Regions from separate parts of the Homo sapiens genome. Here region 1 is linked to region 2. Evidence: fine-mapped expression QTL. A gene starts in region 2. The other region holds a variant in brackets. All regions are shown on one strand. Distances are between the middles of the regions. Region 1 overlaps BCCIP (BRCA2 and CDKN1A interacting protein). Region 2 holds the start of DHX32 (DEAH-box helicase 32 (putative)).

Region 1 (5,330 bases), 46 kb before region 2:
AGCAAACTGAGTGTACTAAGAATTGTATTGTCTGTGCTTTGCAACAGAGGACAAAATATAGGCAGATTCTCTTATTTATTTCTATCTAATTTAAATTTTTTTTTTTTTTTGGTAGAGACAGGGTCTTGCTACATTGCCCAGGCTGGTCTTGAACTCCTAGGCTAAAGTGATCTTCCTGCCTCGGCCTCCCAGTGTTGGGATTACAGGTGTCAGTCACAGCACTTGACCTAGACAGGTTCTTTATAGAATATTCTTTCTCAGAGGTCATAGCCCTTGCGTTGTGGTTTTCCTTTAAATAGCTGTAGGAATGCAACTCTACTCTGGAAACCTTTACGTTTGCTGTTTTTTCCTAGGGATTCGATGCTTCTTATCTCCTGCTCCCTGCTCTCTCAGCTGTAGCTCAGATTGTGCTTCTGGTGCCTTAAGTGGTTTTTGTTTTTTTTTGGTTTTCTTTTTTTCTGATCAGCTGGAGCTCACATTTATTTGGTTTTATAGGAGGGTGATTTGCTTTCTCCTAGTCCTGTTAAAGCTGAAGTGAGCCAAGCGCAGTGGTGCACGCCTGTAGTCGCAGCTACTCAGGAGGCTGAGGCAGGGGGAATGCTTGAGGCCAGGAGTTCCAGGCTGCAATATACTATGATTGTGCCTGTGAATAGCCACTGCACGCCAGCCTGGGCAAAATTACAAGACCCTATCTTTTTTTTTTTCTTTTTTTTTTTTTGAAAAGGCCAGGTGTGGTGGCTGACACTTGTAATTCCAACACTTTGGGAGGCCGAAGCTGGCAGATCACTTGAGGCTAGGAGTTTGAGACCAGCCTGGCCAACATGGCGAAACCCCAATTCTACTAAAAATACACCCACAAAAAATTAGCCGGGTATGGTGGTGCAGACCTGTAATCCCAGCTACTCAGGAGGCTTAGGCACGAAAATCGTGTGAACCTGGCAGGCAGAGGTTGCAGTGAGCCGAGATTGTGCCATTGTACTCTACAGCCTGGGCAACAGAGTGAGATTTTGTCTCCAAACGAAAAAAAGAAAAAAAAAAAAAAGGAAAGCTGAAGAGGACGGTTGTTCTGAGTTTCTTCTTTTGTTCAAGGGCATCCAGATGCACAAGGCTATGTTTAATTTTCAGAAAGAAGAAACATTAAGGCTTTGTTGCGATTCCATTGCTAGAATTTAGGTTGTGTGTTTATGCAGTTTCTGCAGTATGTCAGAAATTAGTTCCAGACTCTAGCAATTAGAGACTGTGGTAGTAGTCACAGGCTGTAGTGACATTGGTTGTGGCTGTATACCTTTGTGTGTTTCAGTTAAATGTTCATTGCTTTAAAAAATTCAAAAATTCAGATTCGTATATATTTTTAACTTATGCACAGGCAGAGCAGTGATACATTGAGTGAATTTGAGACTCATCTGATCTGTTAGTTGCTATATATCCACAAATCAGCATAATCTGAGAGATATATCATAGTATTATAAAAAGTAATACATAATCTAAAATGCAACTGATTATGTAAATAAAAATCATTCCTGTAGACTAAGTGTTCAGATTGAATGCCTGCGTCACAGCAGAACCCACTGAAGATGCCTCACCGGGTTTTCTGTGCTCTGGTTTGTTGATGGATTTCACTTGACCCAGCAGGTAAACAAATGTTGTGTGTGTGCCTTGCAGGAAAGAACTGGCGGGGGCACACAGAACCAATAAGCCATGTGGGAAGTGCTACTTTTACCTTCTGATTAGTAAGACATTTGTGGAAGCAGGAAAAAACAATTCCAAAAAGAAACCTAGCAACAAAAAGAAAGCTGCGTTAATGTTTGCAAATGCAGAGGAAGAATTTTTCTATGAGGTAAGACTATCCTGCTTATTTGTTTAGATGTAAATAAGGATTTTCTTGAAAATGATTTATCAAGATTTATTGTTCTCCCACTTTAGGTCCAAGTCTTTCAAGTGTGGCTACTCTGTTTTTCTGTTTCCCCACAGGACCTAGCAGCTAACATAGTGCCAGGTGCATAGTAGGTACTCAGGAGGCTAGGCACCAGCCTCCTTGCCTGCACTGTGGTTATGAGCATGAGGAGGAGGAGGAGAAAAGTGATTAACCTGTTAAGAATGATTAGGCATTTATAATATGCTTCCTGTGAAATCTTTCATTCTAAAACCATGCGGAGAGGTAGACATTAGCCTGGGGTTTACAGATGTGGACTTTAAGGCATAGGGAAATGAGGGAAATTACCTGCGATCACACAGCTGGTCAGTGTGGAAGCTGGGGCACCCCTGCTGCTCTGTGTCCTTAGTCGTGGATGTCATCCTGCTGGTGGGATATCTCCAGCATTTTTTTCCTATAAAGGTAGCTTGTACTGTGATGGACAGCCATATACCAGAGAATATTCTTACCCTCTCTTCCTCTGAAAAATCTTGAAGTGGGCCAGGTGCGGTGGTGCACACCTGTAATCCCAGCACCTTGGGAAGCTGAGGCGGGCAGATCACCTGAGGCCAGAAATTCAAGACCAGCCTGGCCAACAGGGAGAAACCC[C/T]ATCTCTACTAAAAATACAAAAAAAAAAAAATTAGCCGGGCATGGTGGCAGATGCCTGTAATCCCAGCTACTCGGAAGGCTAAGGCAGGAAAATTGCTTGAACCTGGGAGGCAGAGGCTGCAGTGAGCCGAGATCGCGCCACTGCACTCCAGCCTGAGCAACAAGGAAGAAACTCCGTCTCAAAAACAAACAAACAAACAAAAAACACAAAAACATCTTGAGCCAGGCACGGTGGCTCACGCCTGTAATCCCAGCACTTTGGGAGGTCAAGGCGGGTGGATCACGAGGTCAGGAGATCGAGACCATCCTGGCTAACATGGTGAAACCCCGTCTCTACTAAAAAATACAAAAAATTAGCCGGGCGTGGTGGCACGTGCCTGTAGTCCCAGCTACTCGGGAGGCTGAGGCAGGAGAATGGCATAAACCCGGGAGGCGGAGCTTGCAGTGAGCCGAGATTGCGCCACTGCACTCCAGCCTGGGCGACAGAGCGAGACTCTGTCTCAGAAAAAAAAAAATCTTGAAGTGTATCTCTGAGGGGAACATATTTTCCTGAATTGGATGATATCACATCACTTTGAAGACTTCTGCAGAAGACTAAAGCGCTACAAATTTAGCTGTGCCCTTCTTTTCCAGGAAGTAAATAGTAAACATAATTTTTAAAAAACATAGGCCGGGTGCGGTGGCTCATGCCTGTAATCCCAGCACTTTGGGAGGCCAAGGCGGGCGGATCACGAGGTCAGGAGATCAGACCATCCTGGCTAACACGATGAAACGCTGTCTTTACTAAAAATACAAAAAATTAGCCAGGCACAATGGTGGGCACCGGTAGTCCCAGCTACTTGGGAGGCTGAGGCAGGAGAATGGTGTGAACCCGGGAGGCAGAGCTTGCGGTGAGCCGAGATCACGCCACTGCACTCCAGCCTGGGTGACAGAGTGAGACTCTGTCTCAAAAAAAAAAAACAAACAAACAAAAAAAACAAAACCATATGCTTCAACACCTCAGGTTGACCATTTGGGGGGAGTGTGTATGGGTGTTTTAAGATGGCGGGGTATGCAGATTTACTCTGTCTTCACACAAAAGCCTGATGCTAAGGAAGCAGCTGAGAAAGTGAGAAAAGAGTGTTTGAAGACAAGTTCTTGTTAAATATCAAATTTTACAAGTCTTAATTTCATTATGTTTCACAAGATTATTTTGACAATTAAATGAAAATACCACTTAGCTGCTTGTTCACCTCTTAGAAATTGCACACCTCTATCCCTGTTCCTCATGTGGGTTTAAAATCTACTTGGTTTGTGTTTTATAACTTCTGCCTGAATGTCCCATTTGAACTTTTTCAATTCTGAGTTTTGCTTTTTTTTAGCTCTCATTCTTATTTAAGCATATGCCAAACGTAATATTCTTTGCCGTAGATCAAATGGGTTTTGTCTTTGGGTTGTCCCGATTTTTAATTCATGGTTACTTATTTGGTTTAGAAGGCAATTCTCAAGTTCAACTACTCAGTGCAGGAGGAGAGCGACACTTGTCTGGGAGGCAAATGGTCTTTTGATGACGTACCAATGACGCCCTTGCGAACTGTGATGTTAATTCCAGGCGACAAGATGAACGAAATCATGGATAAACTGAAAGAATATCTATCTGTCTAACCCATTTCCAATGGACAGTGATGGGCTTGTTTTTGTAAAATTACCAGAAAACTCAGTGGAGATTTACTGAAAAACTCAGACTTTATTCAGATTAAGTTCCTCTACAAAAAGTAGGGTTCTGTCCCATGTGTCTCTGACACATTTACAAAATACCAGTTTTTTAAAATTTTGGTCAAATTATGAGTGGTTGATTTAAAAACTTTTCCAAGAAGAAGAAAAGCATGGAGTAGTAATTTAAAGAACTCAATAAAAACTTCTATTTTTTATTTTAAAATAATATACACAGTGTTATTTTCTTCAAGACCGTCCTGTGGATGTGAAATCCGTCTTCGCGTCATGTATCTCCCATATCCAGCAGTTCAGCCATCCAGCTACCTTTGGGACCCTGCTGCACCTTGTGTTTGCTGGGGAGTCACTGGAGAGTGCATCTCTGTTCAGTTTCAGGGCACGTCTCACACATTTGCTGTTCCTTATTCATTGTTGACACAGGGGATAGGTGATCCACTACTTGCTGTAGAATGTCCTTACTTTCACTAGGAGGCAGATTACTGAAATAGTATTGTGGTACCAGCTGCATAAATCTGTTTATTTAAGACAAAAAGATGAGATTATGAGTGGGGAAGGTGGTGAGAGACACCAAACATTATGTCTGGGCACTTCCCATCCCTGGAGAATCTACCTGTAGAACCGGTATTTAATTTGAACTCAGATAGTATCTCAGTCCGACTTTGTAAAATAAATACTTTCTGTTTTTTATGCAGCCAATCCTGTTGCATTTCTAGAATAAGTTGGCCTCTCTAGTGTTATGCCACACAGTGGAAGTGCTGTCTACCACTAACCTTTAGTGGAAACTAGTATTTCCCCTAAGGCCCATCACCATATAAGAGGCACCAATCGTATGCTTAAGAGAGCTTTGGGTAGGGGAGAGAGGGGGTATCTTTGCTTCTTATTTTAACTAGTACCACTCCACATCCAGCTGCGTAAGCCAGACATCTATGAGTCACTCTTGGTTGCTGCCTTGAACACTACTTGCTGGAATAGTAGTGGAACCTTCAAAATGGATCCAGACTCTGTACTGGCCTCTCAAAGACTAGTGGAGTAGTCTCACTCTTGCCATTGCCCCTCCTTTCCATTCATGTAGCAGCCACAGTTATTTTTCCTTTTT
Region 2 (5,381 bases):
AACAGGGTTGTTCCCCACAACCTTTTTTACTTTGTTTCAGAGAATGATGGTATTTAAGCCCAAAATTTAAATGCTTTCTTTGAGATCTACTCTAGAGACTTGCTCATTTCTCTGGGGTTTTCCCGTGTATACATGAGGCATACATATTAATACACTTCTGTTTTTCTTCTGTTAATTTGTCTTTTGTTACAGGGAGCCTCAGATAAGAGTTATGAAGGACAGAGAAAATTATTACTTTTTCCTTCTCTACACTACCTTGTTTTTCTTGGTGTTTTTTTTTGTTTTGTTTTGTTTTCTTTTTTTTTTTGAGATGGAGTCTTACTCTGTCACCCAGGCTGGAGTGCAGTGACACAATCTCAGCTCACTGCAACCTCCACCTCCTGGGTTCAAGTGATTCTCCTGCCTCAGCCTCCCAAGGAGCTGGGACTACAGGTGTGCATCACCATGCCCAGCTAATTTTTGTATTTTTTAGTAGAGTCAGGGTTTCACCATATTGGACAGGCTGGTCTCGAACTCCTGACTTCATGATCTGCCCGTCTCGGCCTCCCAAAGTGCTGAGATTACAGGCATGAGCCACAGCGCCCAGCCTTTTCTTGTTTTTTTTTTTTTTTTTTTTTTTTTTGAGACGGGGTCTTGCTCTGTTGCCCAGGCTGAAGTACAGTGGCATGAACATGGCTCACTGCAGCCTTGACCTCATGGGCTCAAGTGATCCTTCTGCCTCAGCCTCTTGGGTAGCTGGGACCACAGGCACGCACCACCATGCCCAGCTAATTTTTTAATTTTTTATAAAGTTGGGATCTTGCCATGTTGCCCAGCCTGGTCTCAAACTGCTGGACTCAAGCAATCCTCCTGCCTCAGCCTCCCAAAGTGATGGGATTATAGGTGTGAACCACTGCACCTGGCCCACTATCCCGTTAAACAAACAAACAAACTTTAATTGAGAGGCCATTAGGCTGAGGCAATGACAGAGCTCTAGAAGGTCCCACATAAGCAAACTAAAGTCCAATGTAAACAGTAAAACCATACTAGACTTTATCAATCAGAAACTGCCAACTATTCCCTAACTCGGAACTTTCCACTCTAACCAATTTAAATGTCTTTTGTCTTACTTTCATGTTCAGCCTATAAAAGCTCACTGCCCTTGCTGCTAGAATGGGGCTCACTAACCTCCAATGGTTCTGAGTGCTGCGTAATTCATGAGTCATTCTTTGCTCAAACAAACTCCTTGTTTTTTTTGTTTTTTTTCTGAGACAAGGTCTCTCACTCACATCGCCCAGGCTGGAATGCAGGGGCATCATCACAGCTCACTGCAGCCTCAACTTCCCAGGTTCAGGTGATTCTCTCACCTCAGCCTCCCAAGTAGCTGGGACGACAGGCATGCAGCACCATGCCCGGCTACTTCTTTGTAGAGACGGCATTTTGCCATGTTGCCCAGGCTGGTCTTGAACTCCTGGGCTCAAATGATCTGTCCACCTTGGTCTCCCAAAGTGCTGGGATTCCAGATGTGAGCCACTGTGCCTGCTCCAACTCTTTAATATTTTAATATCCCTAGGTTTATCTCTTAATGATCCTAATTCTTTCCCCCATCTTAGACCCCAAAGTGTGTGGCCCCAGGCCTGGATCATATTTAGTTGCTCAGTTATTTCTTATAGTCAGGAAAATCAGAATTTCCTTGTGCTTTTGATTTCAGTAGCTCAGCCAGCTTCACCAGCAAGCACATCCACATATCTGGATTCTCAGACCACTGGGCACTGAAACAGAGCAGTTAATCCCCATACCCATGCTGAGGAAATAACACGCATCACATCTTTTAAAATATCATATACACAATGGATCATTTGAGTAAATTTAATACTAGGATCATTTGAGTAATTTTAATACTGCTCTATAGACAATTCAGTGGTACCCTAAACACAATTAATTTCTACATAGATATTATTAACTTTTCAGCTAGTATTAGTAAAATTAATAAAATTAGGTACGTGATTTAATTATTTTATCTGAATAATGTTTTGTTTTTTGTTTTAGACACTATTATTAGAACACTAGGCTGTGACATGTCATTAAATAACAATTAAAAAATCAACACATACAGCAAATTATTTTTTGTAGTGGTTACTCACCTGAGCGCTCTTACCACATTTAGCATCTCCTGAAACAATCACGATTTGATTTTGAAGCAGGTTCTCCATAAAGGAGTATTTTTCTTTCCATATAGGAAGATCTTCTCTTTCTTTCAGAAGTTTATAATAACGTGATGAATATGGCAATCCATCAAAGGGGTTAAGTTCCAAATCCTCACAGGCCAAAACCTCTTCCTCATCCCCATCGCTGGAATCCAGGGATTCAGGAAAATAGCGTTTTTCAGAGGAAGAGTTTGGACACTCCAGCCCTTCTTCTTCCATCTTGTCTGACAGTGAGCTCACGCAGCTGACATTCCACAAGCAAGTTTCTCCTATCAGTAACCCATTGCAAACAGGGCTTAAAAGCCTATTTATACAAACCCGTATGTTCCAATCTCTAAGACTTCAGTTCAAGGTTTTAGCAAGTTAAATTCCTCAAACCTGCATCTGTTCTCCGTTGCTGTGTTACCCACTGTGCTGGCTCACTACAGCACTCTTCGGCATTGTAAATGATTGTCAATAAACCACACTAAGAAACAAACAAACAAAAAGAGTAAGGAAAATTAGGAACACATATAAGTTAAAAAGAAAATGCACAGGAGTTCAAATGAAAAGCATTATTTTTTTTTTTTCTGTTAACGGGTTTCTGTCATTTCTGCTGCCTGCTTAAAAGAACAGGAATAATTTAGGCTGGTGTTTAAAGTTTGGTGGGTTCCGGTATTTCCTGGCTGGTTCAGAAAATGATTCTGCACTGGGCCTCGTGCTCTCTGCCTGACCTCTATCTCAGGCTCTGCGTCTTGATCAACTGTGAATGGAAAGCAACAGGAGGGACAGGATTGTGATTGTGAGGCTAATCAATCACGTGGTCACCTAATCCCATGTCAAAAGAGGAGCTGGACCCTATAAAAGGAAAGAACTGTGATGACCTGGTGAGTGTTCCTCTAACACAGGCTACAGGAAAATCTATTATTAAGAAATCCTTTACTTTAATGAAAAACATTTTTAAAACTTTTCATTTTCCTTTTGCTTATGTCAGTTTAGAAAGCCAAGTGAGGGGAATGAATTTATTATTTCCTTCCATATGTAGTTATGGTTGGCTTTTATTTTATATATATATAAAAAAGACAGGGTCTCGCTCTGTCACCCAGGCTGGATGCAGTGGCGTGATCATGGCTCACTGCAGCCTCAACCTCCCAGGCTGTTTTCCCCCTGCCTCAGCCTCCTGAGTAGCTGGGACTACAGGTGTACACCACTATGTCCAGCTAATTTCTGTATTTTTTTGTAGAGACGGAGTTTTGCCTTGTTGCCCAGGCTAGTTTCGAACTCCTGGGCTCAAGTGGTCTGTCCTCCTTGGCCTCCCAAAGTGCTGGGATTTCAAATGTGAGCCACCATGCCCAGCTGGCTGGCTTTTATTAATAAGGTCTTTTGTTTAATTAAACCAGAAATCTCTAGCATATTTCTTGAGATTCCTGGGTCTTGAGCCCAACATGTCAGCTCCAAGAGGCCATTAAGGACAACTTTTAATTTAAATGAAGAAGAGAAATCACCCAAGAAAGAGCAAGATTTATACCAATAACTCAGTCCCCACATGTCAGGTGAAGGGTCTTTCCCCTTCCAATTACTAGTGATTAAAAAGAAAAATTCCATTAGTGTTGCTGGAAATAAGCTCCTTTTCACATTAACCAGATAAAAATGAAAAAGAAAACTCAAGTTAAAAAGAATAATAAAATACAGTTCATGATATTTTGTAAGTTACTGCACTTTTCGGATCACCTGGTTTACCTTAATTATTGCTTTAGATGGTTGGAGCCAGTGTGCTCAACAGCTAGTTCCTAATTAGTAAGTGATAAGAAAAGCTCTCTCTCTATTGGTCAAGACAGGCTCCAGGGCAACAGTCAATCACTCAAAAAACATTTGCTGAGTGTCTTCTAAGGGCTTATTAGATGAGTAAACTAGGCACTAGATACACACATAAAGGATATTTTGAAGATGGCAGCAAGAGCAGGATAGAAAGTTTTAAAATTCACAGATGAACAAGCTAGTTTAGAGGTAAGTAACCAGAGAGGCAGAAGAACTTCATAGCTCTTCCCAAGTAAAGTTCTTAAAAATTCATCTAAAAGCCAGTGTTTCAAAATTAAAATGGAATTACAAAGGCATAATAGAAATGTTGTAATATGGATTCACTTCAGAACTCTTCACTGCCTCTATAAGGTGAGAGTAGACCCACAGAATAGCTCCAGGAAGCATGGTAGCTTGAGATCATCGCACAAGCTAATTCTGGGAAGGTATCCAAGAATCAGAAAATTCCACTCTTCAGAGAAGTTAAAATTTAATTTTATATTCTATTTTTCTTTTGTTCTGATTAGAATCCCTTCCAAGGGTTCTCAGCCTACATGTAAATTAAATTGCTATTAAATATTATAACCAATGATTGCCTTAGGTAGTATTTCTTAACTGTTTTACCTTAAAAAAAGAACAGCTATTATTTTTACCAAAAAGAAATGTTTCTCTTATTTATAATACTCCCTAAGAGTGTAATAATCTTATAATTACAGTAAATTCTTACTTATAAAGCACTGACCACTTTGAACCCTGAGGAAATAATCAAGTTTTCTGAATAGTCTTCTTTCTAAAGACCTGAGACTTACCTGGCCCCTTCATCACACATTGTGCAATGTATCCACACACATTAGCCTTAACCACTTCTCTGTTATAGTGGAATTAAAGATGGCCACAGATTATTTGCCACTGTTCCAAATGGAGAGGTAGAGTCTATTTCCTCTCCCCTTGAATCTGAGCTGGCCCTGTGACCAGTGTCACTATGACTAAAATAATGCAGTTAAGTGATACTGAATCACTTCCAAGATATTCCCATGCTTGAAACACTCCTCTTTAGAACCAGCTGTCATTCTATGAGGTACCCACGCCCAAGCCACCGGGAAGAGACCAAAGCTGAACTTCCAGTCCACAGCAGCATAAACCTTCAACCATGTGAACAAGCTGCCTAAGATGCCCCAGCCCAGTCGAGCCTCCAGATGACTGCAACCCCAGCCAACTGAGCAGAAGCAGCATCCACAGGAGCCCATACAACCCAAAGTATCATGAGACAACAAATGGTCACTGTTTTTGTAAGCTACTAAGTTGCAGGGTGGTTTGACTTGCAGAAACAGATAACCAGACTTCTGCCTTCTTAAATAAACTATACTCACAATTTAACTTTTTCATTGTGACTCAAGGTCACCATTACATCAGTTGCCA

The links.
Region 1: its variant is fine-mapped to the expression of DHX32 in whole blood (TOPMed, PIP above 0.99).

The regions. Positions count from the first base shown.
Region 1 is chr10:125,832,110-125,837,439 of GRCh38, forward strand. It overlaps BCCIP (BRCA2 and CDKN1A interacting protein), which reads left to right. Exons shown (of 7, transcript NM_078468.3): 6 at 1,663-1,837; 7 at 3,995-4,442. The coding sequence ends at 4,165. DHX32 (DEAH-box helicase 32 (putative)) reads right to left here. Exons shown (of 11, transcript NM_018180.3): 11 at 4,228-4,746. The coding sequence ends at 4,578. Among named protein-coding and RNA genes, the nearest start is that of BCCIP, 11 kb to the left of the region's middle. The variant C/T (reference allele first, on the strand shown) is at 2,522.
Region 2 is chr10:125,878,420-125,883,800 of GRCh38, forward strand. It overlaps DHX32 (DEAH-box helicase 32 (putative)), which reads right to left and starts at 2,873. Exons shown (of 11, transcript NM_018180.3): 1 at 2,124-2,873. The coding sequence starts at 2,405. RefSeq lists an enhancer at 2,463-3,185.